Regions from separate parts of the Homo sapiens genome. Here regions 1 and 2 are each linked to region 3. Evidence: fine-mapped expression QTL. A gene starts in region 3. Each other region holds a variant in brackets. All regions are shown on one strand. Distances are from middle to middle.

Region 1 (2,772 bases), 88 kb before region 3:
TGGCACATCTTGTTTAATTCTAAGAACCACAATATCTTTAATTCTATGAACCACCAATGCTCTTGGATTTGCTCTTTCTTCTTAATTTCTGCTGATACTACTTACTTGGTCAAGGGATTCCTCACTAAAAATTGTGTTATAGTGACAGCCTAATAGTTGGTTTCCCTGAATGTGATCTCTCTCCCAAATGAATCTATCTGATATAAGGCTTCCAGACTAATTTTTTTTTTAAAAAAGAAACACTGCTTGTTTTGCAAAATTCTTATGCAAGCTTAAGATGTTTCACTGACTTTCCACTATCACCAGTCTCCTAAAATTGGGATGCTTAAATGCCCAGGCAAAAGTGGCAATTGGTCAGAGGGTACTAGAAACCACAGGAGAAATGTGACACATTTTTCCAGAGTATCCATTTTATTTGATGCTGAGTAATTTAAAACATCACTCCCCCCCCCACCATCTTCCCCTTATTTATATCAAACAGATACAGAATGCATTTTCTAAGGCCCCTTCAGATGCACAGATGCATAGAATTAGATACATCATTATTCTCGACTCATGACACATTCTCATTGTTGGTGCATTCAAGACCCTCAATCCTTCATTCATTCATTCATTCATTTAAAATAATACAACAAATACACTTGACATTATCACCAACATGAAAACTAGGAAATGAATTTCCATTCATATTCACCTGTTTGATCTTCAGTTGTATCACCCAGCCTCTTCCCCATTCCAAGGTAACACTACTGAAATCATTCTGTTTTCCCTTTTAATGTCACATGTAAATATATTCAAAAAGAGTGGGGTTTTTTTGGGGGGAGGGAGTGTTTAGATGTTATTAACTTTATATGTAATCTTTAAGGACATATGCTTTTCACTTAATACTATATTGCTAGGATTAATCCACATTATGGCATATAATTATGGTACATTCACTTGGAGTGGATATAAATATATCCTTATTTATTTATGGGTGCACCTCCACTGCCCTGCAGGGTCCTGGGACACTGTGTGAGATGGGGAAGGTACTGATTTTTTATTTTTTGTAGAGGTGGTCCCTGTCCTCCAGGAGCTTCTAATTAATTTGTCTATTCCCTTGCCTGTTAATGGGCATTTGGGTTGTTTTCAGGTTTTGGTATTAAAAAGAGTGCTCACATGAACACTCTTGTATGCATGACCTGATACTCGTTAAAAAGTTTTTTTGAACTGGGGGCAGTGGCTTATTCCTATAATCCCAGCACTTTGGGAGGCTGAGGCAGGATGATCGCTTGAGCCCAGGAGTTCAAGACCAGCTTGGACAAGATAGTTGATATGGTTTGGCTGTGTCCCCACCCAAATCTCAACTTGAATTGTATCTCCCAGAATTCCCCCGTGTCGTGGGAGGGACCCAAGGGGAGGTAACTGAATCATGGGGGCTGGTCTTTTCTGTGCTATTCTCGTGATAGTAAATCTCACGAGATCTGATGGTTTTATCAGGTGTTTCCGCTTTTACTTCTTCCTCATTTATCTCTTGCCACTGCCATTAAGAAATGCCTTTGACCAGGCCTGGTGGCTCAGGCCTGTAATCCCAGCACTTTGGGAGGCCAAGGTGGGCAGATCACAAGGTCAGGAGATGGAGACCAGCCTGGCCATCATG[A/G]TGAAACCCCATCTCTACTAAAAATACAAAAATTAGTTGGGCATGATGGCGTGCGCCTGTTGTCCCAGCTACTTGGAAGGTTGAGGCAGAAGAATCACTTGAACCCAGGAGGCAGAGGTTGCAGTGAGCCGAGATCACGCCACTGCACTCCAGCCTGGTGACAGAGTGAGACTCCGTCTCAAAAAAAAAAAAAAAAAAAAAAAAAAGAAGTGCTTTTTGCCTCCCACCAAGATTCTGAGGCCTCCCCAGCCACGTGGAACTGTAAGTCCAATTAAACCTCTTTTTGGTTTTAGTTTCGGTTATGTTTTTATCAGCAGCGTAAAAATGAACTAATACAATAGTGAAACCCTGCCTCTACCAAAAAAAAACAAAAAAAAATTTGCTGGGCATGGTGGCATGCACCTGTAGTCCCAGCTACTAGCAGGGTGAAGTGGGAGGATAGCTGGAGGCCAGAAGATCAAGGATGCAGTGAGCTGTGATTGTGCCACTTTACTTGAGCCTGGACAACAGAGCAAACTCTGTCTCAAAAAAAAAAACAAAGTTTCTTTTATGTATATGCCTAGGAGCAAAATGGCAGGTCAAAGGGCATGGAAATGTTTATCTTTACAGGATAACGCCAAATTGTTCCAAAAGCGCTATACCAATTTACACTCCCACCAGCAATGATTAAGATATTCTGATGATCTGTATCCTCCAGATATGGGCCAACTTTAAACATTTCTTTAACATATATATATCAGGTTTACCATTTTAAACATTTTTAAGTATATAGTTCAGAGACATTCAGTACATGCACACTGCTGTACAACCATTACCACCATCCATCTCTAGAACTTATCTTCTTCAACTGAAATTCTGTATCTAGGCTGGGCGCAGTGGCTCACACCTGTAATCCCAACATTTTGGGAGGCCGAGGTGGGCAGATCATCAGAGGTCGGCAGTTCATGACCAGCCTGGCCAACATGGTGAAACCCCATCTCCACTAAAAATACAAAAACTAGCTGGATATGGTGGCGCATGCCTGTAATCCCAGCTACTCGGGAAGCTGAGGTGGGACAATAGTTTGAACCTAGGAAGTGGAGGTTGCAGTGAGCTGAGATTACACCACTGCACTCCAACCTGGGCAACAGAGT
Region 2 (2,772 bases), 120 kb after region 3:
TATATGTATGTATGTGTGTATATGTATACGTATATACATATATGTGTGTATATGTATACGTATATACATATATGTGTGTATATGTATACGTATATACAATGTATGTATATATGTATACATATACATACATATATACATGCATGTATGTATATGTGTATATATACATACATATACACATACATACACATATATGTGTATATGTATACACATACATACACATATATGTGTATATGTATACACATACATACACATATATGTGTATATGTATACACATACATACACATATATGTGTATATGTATACACATACATACACATATATGTGTATATGTATACACATACATACACATATATGTGTATATGTATACACATACATACACATATATGTGTATATGTATACACATACATACACATATATGTGTATATGTATACACATATACATATGTGTATACGTATACACGTATATATGTATACACACATACATACGTATAGATGTATACACACACATACATACGTATAGATGTATACACACATACATACGTATATATGTATACACACACATACGTATATATGTATACACACATACATACGTATATATGTATACACACACATATACGTATATATGTATATAGACACATATACGTATATATGTATATATACACACATATATACGTATATATGTATATATACACACATATATACGTATATATGTATATATACACACATATATACATATATATAATGTATATACACACACATATATACATATATAATATGTATATATACACACACATATATGTATGTATATTTTACAGGCTTAATTAACTTTCTTTTTCTTGTATAAAAACCCTATGTTGTAGCTACAGCTGGAGCCTGGGTCCTCTGCACGGAGACTCTGGTGTGGGTCTTGGCGAGGTGGTCAGTGAATTCTTGATAGGGACACTTGGTGAATACAGCCGTCCTCCAGAGGTCAGGGGTCAGGTAGCTGTAGGTCTTAGAGATGGCATCAAAGGTGGCCTTGGCGAAGTTGCTCAGAGTGGCAGTGCAGCCCCTGGCTGAGGTGTAGCAGTCATCGATACCAGCCATCATGAGCAACTTCTTGGGCACAGGCGCCGAGACGATACCGGTGCCTCTGGGCACGCGGATGAGGCGCACGAGCAC[G/A]GAGCCGCAGCAGCCCGTCACCTTGCAACGGATGGTGTAGGGCTTGCCGATCTTGTTCCCCTAGTAACCTCTGCGCATGGGGACAATGGAGAGCTAGGCCAGGATGATGGCCCTGTGGATGGCAGTGGCCACCTCCTTGGAGCACTTAACACCCAGACCGACGTGACCGTTGTAGCCCGCAATGGCCACAAACGCCTTGAACCTGGTTCGCTGGCCGGCTCCGGTCTGCTTCTGCACCGGCATAATCTTCAAAACCTAGGCCTCGAGAGAGGCCCCCCAGGAAAAAATCAATGATCTCAGATTCCGTGATGGGCAGGGAGAAGAGACAGATCTCCTCCAGGGAAGTGATCTTCATGTGCTTGACCAGGCAGCCCAGCTTGCTGACGGGCATCCACTCCTTATCCTTGGCCTTGCCTCCGCGAGCTCCGTGGCTTCGGCCCCAGCCTGGTCCACGGCAGTGACCCCGGCCTCGGATGCCACTGCCGAAACCTCCACGGAAGCCACCATGGTTCCCCATCCCAGGGCCCCGGGGCCTCCGGGACTCCCCCCGCAACCCAATGCCGGCTGCGCCGGCGTCATCCGCCATTTGGTGTTTTCTCGGAGAAGAAGCTACATGTGGAATATATTAACGCAACAAATTGTGCGTACTTGCTAGACATTAGGCATGATAGCAAGTGCTAGGGTTACAAAGTATTGCTTTTTGGGGAACCCATGGTTGTTGGGGAGAAACCAGAAGATCAGTCATCACAGTGCGGCAAGATCAGACTTGTGGTTTGTTCAGGTTCTGGGAGCCGTCACTGCAGTGAGAATGGGTGAGTTGGGGCAGGCTGTGGTGTCTGGGAAATTTTAAAATAGAAGTGATACTTGAGCAAGAAGTTGAAGGATGAATATGGATTTATAGAATAAGCAGGGTGTAGAGACATGTGTGCATGTGTGTGTGTATTTCATAAAGAAAGACATGCATGTGCAAAGGCCTGGAGGCTGTTGATGTCAGCAGAATGTTCTGAGGAATGAGTAAGATGAAACAGATGAAACACTTAAAGGCATTTTTTCTCCATTAGTCAAGTCTAGGAGAGGCATTCAATGTCTAATGTCTAACTAGGGTTAGGATTTGAAGAATCTTTCTAAGATGTCTGGTCTTTTTTTTTTTTTCTTTTAGAGATGGGGTTTCACTGTGTTGCCTAAGCAGTGGCTATTCATAGGCACAGTTACAGCACACTGCAGTCTTGAACTCCTGGACTCAAACTATCCTCCTGCCTTGGCCTCCAAAGTAGCTAGGGCTACAGGCACATGTGACTGTGCCTGAGTAAGACGTCCCCTCTCAAAAGTCAGCAAATAAAAGGCAGCTTAGAGAAAGCCATGGTTCCTACCTGATCACCCTCCCAACCATCCTATGAGGATTTTACAGATGAGGACCCTGACGTTCAGTGGGTTTAAGTAATTTCCCTAAAGTCTCTGCTAGGAAGAAGGAGAACTGGGCTTTCCATTGGAGTCTGCCTCACTCCAAAGCCCACGACAAATTGTGAACATAAGTTCCTCTTTATCTGATGACTTGGGACTTTGTCTCACCTTAGGACCAGTCTTCTGTATGTGAGATTATTAGGTAGTTTGGT
Region 3 (2,772 bases):
CTTCGTATTCTGTATGTTAGGCTTCTGTTTCTATCAATATTTGTCATTAATAGCATTTACATTGCTCCTTCAGAATTTATTTATTTTGAGACAGGGTCTCGCTCTGTTGCCCAGGCCTGAGTGCAGTGGCACGATTATAGCTCACTGCAAGCTTGGACCCCCGGGGCTCAGGGGATCCTCCCACCTTAGCCGCCCAAGTACCTGGGGCCACAGGCGTGTGCCACCACACCTGGATAATTTTTTTTTTTTCTGAGTTTCACTCTTGTCACCCAGACTGGAGTGCAATGGCATAGTCTCGGCTCACTGCAACCCGTCTCCCGGGTTCAAGCGATTTTCCCACCTCAGCCTCCCAAGTAGCTGGGATTACAGGCGCCCGCCACCACACCCAGCTAATTTTTGTATTTTTAGTAGAGACGGGGTTTTACCATTTTGGTCAGGCTGGTCTCGAACTCCTGACCTCAGGTGATCTGCCCGCCTTGGCCTCCCAAAGTGCTAGGATTACAGGCGTGAGCCACCGCGCCCGGCCCAATTTTTATTATTTTTATTTTATTTTTTTATAGACACGGGATCTCTCTCTGTTGCCCGCAAACTCCTGGGCTCAAGCGATCCTCCAGCCTTGGTGAGAGCCACAGCGCCCAGTCTCTCTTTAAGAATTTAAAAAGCAGTTTCAGATCACAATATCATCTATCTCGTTCACAGTCCCCTTGCTTTTTACTGTCACCCTTTAAAAAGCATTATACAATTACAGAAACGGTGGTTTAGCAGTGAAGTAACCACCAAAGACTCTTGGCACTCCAATCCTCTGCCTTCTTCAGGCGATAGGATTAAGAATGGGATCCTAGGATGCTTACATGCAATGATGAACCCGAAAACACTTGCAAAGTGCTACGCAAATATTGATCACGAAGAAGGAAGTCCTCTTCCCGCCTGGAGACTGTGTGGGGTATGGCGGGGTGGTGGGGAGAATGTGGTGTCTTGCTCCACCCTCCTGGCGAGGGGAGGGCCTGGCCTGGACCGCAGAGGAATCGAGTGACTGCCCCTAAAATCTCCTAGAACCGATCCCGCGGCCCCGCCCCTCCCGCGGCCCCGCCCCTCCCGCGGCCCGTCAGCCTCTGCCGCGGAGCTGCGTCCGCCACTCATGTTTCTCCGAGCAGGCCTGGCCGCGCTCTCCCCGCTTCTTCGCAGTCTTCGGCCCTCTCCTGTCGCCGCCATGAGCACTGGCACCTTCGTCGTGTCGCAGCCGCTCAATTACCGCGGCGGGGCCCGCGTGGAGCCGGCGGACGCCTCCGGTACCGAGAAAGCTTTCGAGCCAGCAACCGGTAACTGCAACGAGCCGGGGAGGCTGGGGCGCCCTGGGGCCGGATGCGCGGATTTCCCGGCCAGCCCCCGTTTCCTGTGTTCTGCAGCGTTGACTTGAGCACAAGACAGTGACAGTGGAGAGTCTAAGGTTGTGTGTGTAGGCAACTAGCGATTCTGGGGCAACGCGAGTGCCTCCGGGCAGGGATGGGTAGGGAGGAAAAGCAAAGCTGATGAGTTGCGTGGTAGGATCGTGAGTTGTTTTACCCGGGCCAGAACAGAGTTCGCAAAGTACTGGTGGGGGAAGTCGTGCCTCTGTTAACTTCCTTTTTTGTTTGTTTTGTTTGTTTGTTTGTTTTTTGTTTGTTTTGAGACAGGGTCTCACTCTGTCGCCCAGGCTGGAGTGCAGGGGCACCATCTCAGAGCTCACTGCGCCCTCTACCTTACGGGCTCAAGTGCTTCTCCCGCCTCAGCCTCCCTGGTAGCTGGGATTACAGGCTCCCACCACCATGTCCGGCTAATTTTTGTATTTTTAGTAGAGACGGGTTTTCAGCATGTTACTCAGGCTGGTCTCGAACTCCTGAGCTTAGGTGATCCTCCCGCCTCAGCCTCCCAAAGTGCTGGGATTACAGCCGTGAGCCACCAAGCCCAGCCAACTGTTCCCCCTTTTAAAACCAGGACTGATGTATTATTGTCTTCAAATGTGTGCATAGGAGAGGAATTCTAAAAGAACGGGGCGGGGTTGTGGGGAAGATAATCATTTGTGCTGGGAATGAAGGAACGCTCACAGATAGTTTCTAATGACTACGAATGAGGACTTTGTCTCCACATTCTAATATTAAAATATTTCTGCACATTAATCAGAATTGGGAAAGGAAAAAACCCCACCTTTATTCAGTACTTTCTTCCCCAGCTTTATTGAAGTATAATTAACAAATAAAAATTGTATATACTTAAGGTGTAAAACGTGTTGTAATGTATGTATACCTTGCAAAATGGTTACCACGGTCAATCTAATTATCCATTGCTTCTGCATAGTTAATGGCTTTTTTTGGATAGTGAAATATTTAAGATCTATTCTTTTAGCAAATTTCAAGTATATGATGCAGTATTGGTAACCATAGTCACCATGGTCTACGTGAGCTCTCCACAATTTATTCATCTTGCTGAAATAAAACTTTTTAATCCAGTGCTTAATGTGTGCTAAGCACTGTGCTAGGCACTGGATTTACTCTGGGAACTCTGAAGGTCACAGAGATAAGGAAGAAGGGGCTTTTTGTTTTGGTTTTGTGTTGTGTTTATTTTGCTGGGTTTTATGGAATATATGTGGGGAGAAAAATGTAAATATTTTGTGTAAAATGTAGCCAGAGCAATAAAACTGATTTGCAGGGGACTGGAGAATTTAGTATTTGACCATCCACACTAAACCACAGAGCAGTGACTTGGCAGAGCCAGAAGGCATTATCACATCTCTTC

Evidence for each region. PIP is the estimated chance that this variant, and not a neighbour inherited with it, causes the effect.
Region 1: its variant is the best candidate, but not a certain one, in a credible set for the expression of ALDH9A1 in whole blood (TOPMed, PIP 0.73).
Region 2: its variant is the best candidate, but not a certain one, in a credible set for the expression of ALDH9A1 in whole blood (TOPMed, PIP 0.64).

What each region holds. Positions count from the first base shown.
Region 1 is chr1:165,784,651-165,787,422 of GRCh38, reverse strand. No RefSeq gene overlaps it. Among named protein-coding and RNA genes, the nearest start is that of TMCO1-AS1, 17 kb to the right of the region's middle. The variant A/G (reference allele first, on the strand shown) is at 1,640.
Region 2 is chr1:165,580,554-165,583,325 of GRCh38, reverse strand. It overlaps LRRC52-AS1 (LRRC52 antisense RNA 1), which reads left to right and starts at 1,171. Exons shown (of 7, transcript NR_026744.2): 1 at 1,171-1,971. It also overlaps the pseudogene RPS2P10. The variant G/A (reference allele first, on the strand shown) is at 1,160.
Region 3 is chr1:165,696,925-165,699,696 of GRCh38, reverse strand. It overlaps ALDH9A1 (aldehyde dehydrogenase 9 family member A1), which reads left to right and starts at 1,135. Exons shown (of 11, transcript NM_000696.4): 1 at 1,135-1,319. The coding sequence starts at 1,139. It also overlaps the pseudogene CA14P1. RefSeq lists enhancers at 700-879, 744-1,326, 1,170-1,399 and a silencer at 950-1,139.